2 linked regions of the Homo sapiens genome follow. The protein of the gene in region 1 interacts with the protein of each later gene in a biochemical or structural test. Each region holds a gene or a part of one and is shown in the gene's direction. Other genes may lie near its edges.

Region 1 (3,056 bases):
CTGACAAGTTTTTACCAAGAAGAGATTCAGGTGAGTTGCCCTGAGCCAGCTCCAATTAGCTGCTCAGATTTCCATCACTAGCTTGCCTGAAGTAAAGAGATTTTATAAACTACTCCAGTAAGGGCAGGAATATATAACTCCCTTTTCTCTATTCCCCATAGTGCTTTGGGTTCAATCTATGTTTGGTGAATTGATTAAGGGTTTAGTTGGCCAGGAAATCGTATTAAGTGCTAACAACAGGTTTTCAAGGGATCAGTGTCACAAGTGCTTTGTTTGTTCAGTCATCTGTCTTAGCAATATTTTTCTGGCTCTGCAAAGAATTGTGCTCTCTGCTTCCCTCTTAGGAGCGGGATGAAAAGATTGAAGAGCTAGAAGCTCTCTTGCAGGAAGCCAGACAACAGTCAGTGGCCCATCAGCAATCAGGGTCTGAATTGGCCCTACGGCGGTCACAAAGGTTGGCAGCTTCTGCCTCCACCCAGCAGCTTCAGGAGGTTAAAGCTAAATTACAGCAGTGCAAAGCAGAGCTAAACTCTACCACTGAAGGTGAGGAAAGAGACAGGCAGGAAACATAACAGTGGTTCAGGGAAGAGCTGTTACTTAAACCCAGGCCTTCTAACTCCTGCTCTAACATAATTTCCTAAACTGCAAGCTACATCCCCCTGACATTTCAATCTAGGATACACATAGCCTCACTTTTTATATTTGCTGCAAGCTACTGTTACCTCAGTTAAAGAGGTTAGTCCAAGGCTAAAAAAACCCCACATATTTTAAGTTTCCTGTTTCCTTCCCTCAGAGTTGCATAAGTATCAGAAAATGTTAGAACCACCACCCTCAGCCAAGCCCTTCACCATTGATGTGGACAAGAAGTTAGAAGAGGGCCAGAAGGTAATTACCACCATTCTCTGTTTACCAAACTCTTACCTAAGGCAATTTCCCACATCCAACACTCTATCACTGGTTCATGTGAAGACAAGATGTTTTTTGTGCACAGTTCTGGAGAGTGGCTATTTCACTCAGCTGACTAGCCTTTCTAATTTTACTTCTCTTCAAATGGCTACCTGACCCCTCCAGATCATTATCCTGGTTGCTCTTGGCCACAATATGATTCCTACTTCCCCTTTTTCAGAATATAAGGCTGTTGCGGACAGAGCTTCAGAAACTTGGTGAGTCTCTCCAATCAGCAGAGAGAGCTTGTTGCCACAGCACTGGGGCAGGAAAACTTCGTCAAGCCTTGACCACTTGTGATGACATCTTAATCAAACAGGTTAGGGCAAACTATATACCCACTTCTGTCCTACCAGCCCACTCCAGTGTATATGTGAGAAAGGAAAGAGGACCAGAAGAAAAAGGTAAAGATTTTTAGGCTGAATTTATAGTGAGAGCAGTATATTTGCAAAATAAAAATAACTATTCTTTGTTAAGCATTTACTAAGTACCAGGCACTGTGCTAAGTAATTTATAGGCATTTTCTGTCACAACCACCTTAGGGAGGTAGTTACTGTCATATTTCATCTAAGATGCTACTGATTATAAGAAACCATTATTTTATGTACTACTAAGAAAAAAGTAACAATTTCTCATCAGTAAGATGCATCCTGATTCCAAAGAGATTAAAATGTTAAAATTGTGTATCTTAAACTAAACTCAACATTTAATTTGACATTTAGAGACTGAGGCACTTAGAAATTAAATTTACTCAAGCTCATACTACCTTATGTGTTAGAAGATGTCCTATTCAGCACTGCTTATGTTTTGTTCTCAGAAAATGTCCCCTTATTCAGTTATAAGCTCCGACCTTAAAGAGTTTTAATCTTTGAAGAAACAGTTGTTAGTAACTAGTAATGGATGGTATGTATTACCCTTAGCCCTCTCGTTTCTCTAATATACCAGACAAAAGTGTTTTCTATAACTTTATTGATCTTCCTTAGGACCAGACTCTGGCTGAACTGCAGAACAACATGGTGCTAGTGAAACTGGACCTTCGGAAGAAGGCAGCATGTATTGCTGAGCAGTATCATACTGTGTTGAAACTCCAAGGCCAGGTTTCTGCCAAAAAGCGCCTTGGTACCAACCAGGAAAATCAGCAACCAAACCAACAACCACCAGGGAAGAAACCATTCCTTCGAAATTTACTTCCCCGAACACCAACCTGCCAAAGCTCAACAGACTGCAGCCCTTATGCCCGGATCCTACGCTCACGGCGTTCCCCTTTACTCAAATCTGGGCCTTTTGGCAAAAAGTACTAAGGCTGTGGGGAAAGAGAAGAGCAGTCATGGCCCTGAGGTGGGTCAGCTACTCTCCTGAAGAAATAGGTCTCTTTTATGCTTTACCATATATCAGGAATTATATCCAGGATGCAATACTCAGACACTAGCTTTTTTCTCACTTTTGTATTATAACCACCTATGTAATCTCATGTTGTTGTTTTTTTTTATTTACTTATATGATTTCTATGCACACAAAAACAGTTATATTAAAGATATTATTGTTCACATTTTTTATTGAATTCCAAATGTAGCAAAATCATTAAAACAAATTATAAAAGGGACAGAAAAATTAAGAATCAAACATCATTCTGGACCATGGGAACCTTGAAAAGGCATGGCAGTGGAGACCAGTAACTAGTATACAGCTTGCCTGAGAAGGCTTAGTAACAAATGAATTCAAGTCGTATTAGATATTCTAAACCTTCCTTAATATAAGATGAAGTGTCATATGTTAGGAGGTAAAAACGTAACACAAAATTCTGGGAATAAGAATAAAGTCTGGACCCTGAGCTCAGAATGATCCATAGCATCTACTGTGCAAATATATTACAGCAGACATTATAGCATATTACCTCCTGCTGTACACACATGCACAGGCCTGAAACTCTCCAAGAGCACCATAAGAATGATTCCCTTTACCTCATCTAGATAAAGGCTGAAAAAAATGTATTCTGTTGCAGATGGGAGGGAAAAAAATAGACAATTACGTTGAAAATTTATTAAAACAGACCAGCTTGAAGTGAGTTTATTCTTGTCTGTATAATCACCAATGTTATTTCCAAATGTCCG
Region 2 (3,500 bases), on another chromosome or scaffold:
TAGGCCTACAAATCATATTCCTCTTATAGTCTACTGTTTTTCTGGTATCTTATAAGGAAAGACTTGCTGGAGAATCCATCCAATTTATATTGTGAGTTGGGATTGACATTTGAAATACGATGAGGACTTCAGCCTGGGCAGAGTGTGTACTTTTCTTAGTTTGAACTTACCCTACTGTGCCACAGTAATGGCTGTGGCTCTGACACCTCCAACTCCATCTTTTTTGTTACCCCAACATATTACATGGTGCTAGGTGATGCAGAGAATAAAACAATGTTGAATGCATATGTTACCTTCAAAGAGCTCCAAGCCTGTAGGGAAAATAACAGAACTGCAGTTTGAGGTATAGGAAAGATACCTGCCCAAAGAGAAATACAACCTCTATGCTAGGAGAGGCATTCACAGGCAGGTAGGGGCACATCTGGTGGAAGCGTTCAGCAAAGGCTTCGTGGAAGAGTTAAGATTGGCTTGAAGGATGGACAAGGTCTTATCAGGCAGAGACATGAGAGGAGGGATCTTGGAAAACAGCAAGTGTGAGGAGGGGAGAGGCTTGGGACGTGTGTTCAGGGAACAGTAAGTCCTCCAGTTTGCCTGGTGTGTATTCAGGGAACATGTAGGGGATGGAGAATGTGAAATTGAGATGTTGGCTGGGGACAGAATGAATGTCAGGGTGAGAAACCTGCAGTTTCTTTGGTACACCATGGGACTCTTGAGGGATTTGGGGCAGCCATGGTATGACTTGATTTGTGCTAATTACAAACAATGGGAAACATTTATTGAGCATTTAAATGTGTGCCAGATGCTGTTCTAGGTGCTCTATAACTATTAATTCATTGTGTTTTCACAACAATTCTGTGAGACAGGCACTATTATCCTTATTGTACAAAAAGGCATAGAGAAGCTGGGTCACTTGCCCAAGGTCACAGAAGTAAAAGTAGCAGAGCTGGAGTTTGAAACCAAGTCATCTAGTTGCAGAGGACATATATCCTTCTCAAAAAATTAATACAGTAGCATCATTTAAGAGGGGTTGTTAAGGAGATAAGAGCCCACTTAAAAAAATTCAGGGGGGACCAGGCATAGTGGCTCACGCCTGTAATCACAGCACTTTGGGAGGCCGAGGCAGGTGGATCACGAGGCCAGGAGTTCAAGACCAGCCTGGCCAACATGTTGAAACCCCGTCTCTACTAAAAATACAAAAATTAGCTGGGCATGGTGGCGTGTTCCTATAATCCCAGCTACTTGGGAGGCTGAGGCAGGAGAATTGCTTGAACCAGGACCTGGTAGGTGGAGGTTGCAGTGAGCTGAGATTGCGCCACTGCACTCTAGCCTGGGCTACAGAGCAAGACTCTGTCTAAAAAAAAAAAAAAAAAAAAAAAAATTCAGGGGAAAGAAACAAGTACCTGGATTAGGATGGTGACAATGGTGATGGAAAGAAGCGATCTGAAGCCATGTGACCTGGCAACACAGGAGGGTGGCGTGGAGGGGTGCTGAGGAAAAAGAGGGATCAAAGAAGTCCTTAAGACAGCTTAGGTTGTGGTGAGCCTACTGGAGCTCTTAACTGAAATAAGGAAGGAGGGTGGAATAATTGGCTTTGGTGGGAAGATCAGGCATTCCATTTTGGCCAGATTGAATTTAAGAAATTTAAGGGATATTTACATCACTGTTAGATATCACATACATTTGAGGTTCTTAAATTTGGGAATTTTCCCAAAGAGACTAATAAAGCTGTGAGAATGATGCGATTTCTGGGAAGATAGAGAAGGTCTCAAGGTCTGTATTTCACAAGTAGAACCAGGATGGGAGGAGCAAGGGAAGGTGGAAGTACGCAACAAAGAGGTGGACAAACACTGAAGGGGAAAGGAGAAAGGGAGAAGGACTGACTCCATCTCGTCAGCTCCACTTTGGGGAAGTATAGAATGAGAGAGACTGCAAAGCCCCTAGAAGGATGTCTAGTAACCCGGGCTCTGTCTGGAGGACGTCCTACAGCGAGAAAGATTTTGACTATCACATCATAATGTGCATGTCTCTGAGGAGAAGAATATATTTATATTCATTATCACACAGGCCTTTGTACTGTGTAATTATTTGCTGAATGTTTAAATTAAATGCTGCTTTTCCAGCTGGGTGTGCTTGTAGTCCCAGCTACTCTTGAGGCTGAGGCGACAGGATTGCTTGAGGCCTGCAGTTGAACTGAAAAGCCAGCCTGCCAGCCTGAGCAACATAGTGAGACCCCATCTCTTAAAAAAAAAAAAAAAAGAAAGAAATGCTGCTTTTCTGGCTAAATTATCACCTTAGAAGCGATTGTTTTTGAATCAGGAAGTAGACTCTTTAAATATTAGGCTGTGGATATTCTGGCCACAGCTGTGTTTTGCGCAGATGTTTCTTTAGTTATGAAAGGAGGACAGCATTCCATGATTGAAATGTCAACCTTCTGAGATGCTGGTGGAGAAAATTTAATGAGGTGGCCTCATGAGGTAAGGCTATTAAAAGTGAACGTTTGAATTATCTGCTTGATTTTTTAAAACAGAACTTATTACTATAAAGGCCTGGGCAGCTTTAATAAAATGAGGATGATAAGAAATCATCCTTTGTCCTTGGGTTATGATTTCACAGGTCAGAGTTAAAATCAAAGTATAGGCTAACACACTAGTGGTACAAAAATAGCTCCACAAAAAGGGAGCCTTTCAAAGAAGATTTATCTGCATTTGATTAAGCTACAAATAACACACCACTCCCTGGAAAGGCTTGTTCTTTGGTATTGGAATTGGGCCCCGTAATCCAAACAGGCGCTTACTTTTAATAACTTGGCTTACTTTTGTGTGGCTAAAAAGTTAGTGAAATGAAATATATTACTTGTTATGACATCTGTGTGCCCCTCCTAGTGGTGGTCATGGGTGTAGGGTTGGATGTTCATGGCATAGAAAGCCAGTTTGCTGGGAAGGATAGTGTATAGGGTCTTCATTTTCAGCCTGTCCATTGTCATTTCTTCTCTTTTTGAGTTGTGAAGAAAGGTATTGAAAGTGCAGGAAAGAGCTCTTTAGGGAGAAACTCTAGGGACTGAATTTTAAGCAGTTTCTGAAGTGACTTGAAGAATTTCACCAAATGTTTTAGCATGTTAAGAATGAGCAGCCTCTAATGAGAACTAATTAGCTAAATGGAAGATTTAAATAATTTAAAACATTCAATTTTCATTTAAACTTAATTAAAGCAGCCTGATATTAATGCATCCAGGAAGTTTTGGATAAGTAATTTATAGAAAAATGATTTCTTTTATCTTGTCTATAGCATAGTTTTGAGTCAAAATGTGAACATAGAATATTTATGAGAGAAGCATGGAAAAACTACTCTTGCCTAGAAATATTTGTGGGAATGCATATTTAGGTTAGAGGTAGGTCAGGAGAAACCCTTTTGGTTTTTAAATTTTTATTTCAAATTAAATGTATAGCAAGTAGGATAATTTAATGGAAGGTTGAATGCCACTTAAGCATATACACACATAC

Evidence for each region. The genes of interacting proteins can lie anywhere in the genome.
Region 2: the proteins of KIF20A (region 1) and CDC14A form a complex in vitro, tested with the Homo sapiens proteins (one study listed by BioGRID).

What each region holds. Positions count from the first base shown.
Region 1 is NC_000005.10:138,185,168-138,188,223, forward strand, and holds the end of KIF20A (kinesin-like protein KIF20A), read left to right. Parts: coding exon 1-30; intron 31-344; coding exon 345-543; intron 544-793; coding exon 794-885; intron 886-1,126; coding exon 1,127-1,264; intron 1,265-1,928; coding exon 1,929-2,246; 3' UTR 2,247-2,556; downstream 2,557-3,056. UniProt on the Homo sapiens protein: Mitotic kinesin required for chromosome passenger complex (CPC)-mediated cytokinesis. Following phosphorylation by PLK1, involved in recruitment of PLK1 to the central spindle. Interacts with guanosine triphosphate (GTP)-bound forms of RAB6A and RAB6B.
Region 2 is NC_000001.11:100,355,506-100,359,005, forward strand, and holds part of CDC14A (dual specificity protein phosphatase CDC14A), read left to right. Parts: intron 1-3,500. UniProt on the Homo sapiens protein: Dual-specificity phosphatase. Required for centrosome separation and productive cytokinesis during cell division. Dephosphorylates SIRT2 around early anaphase.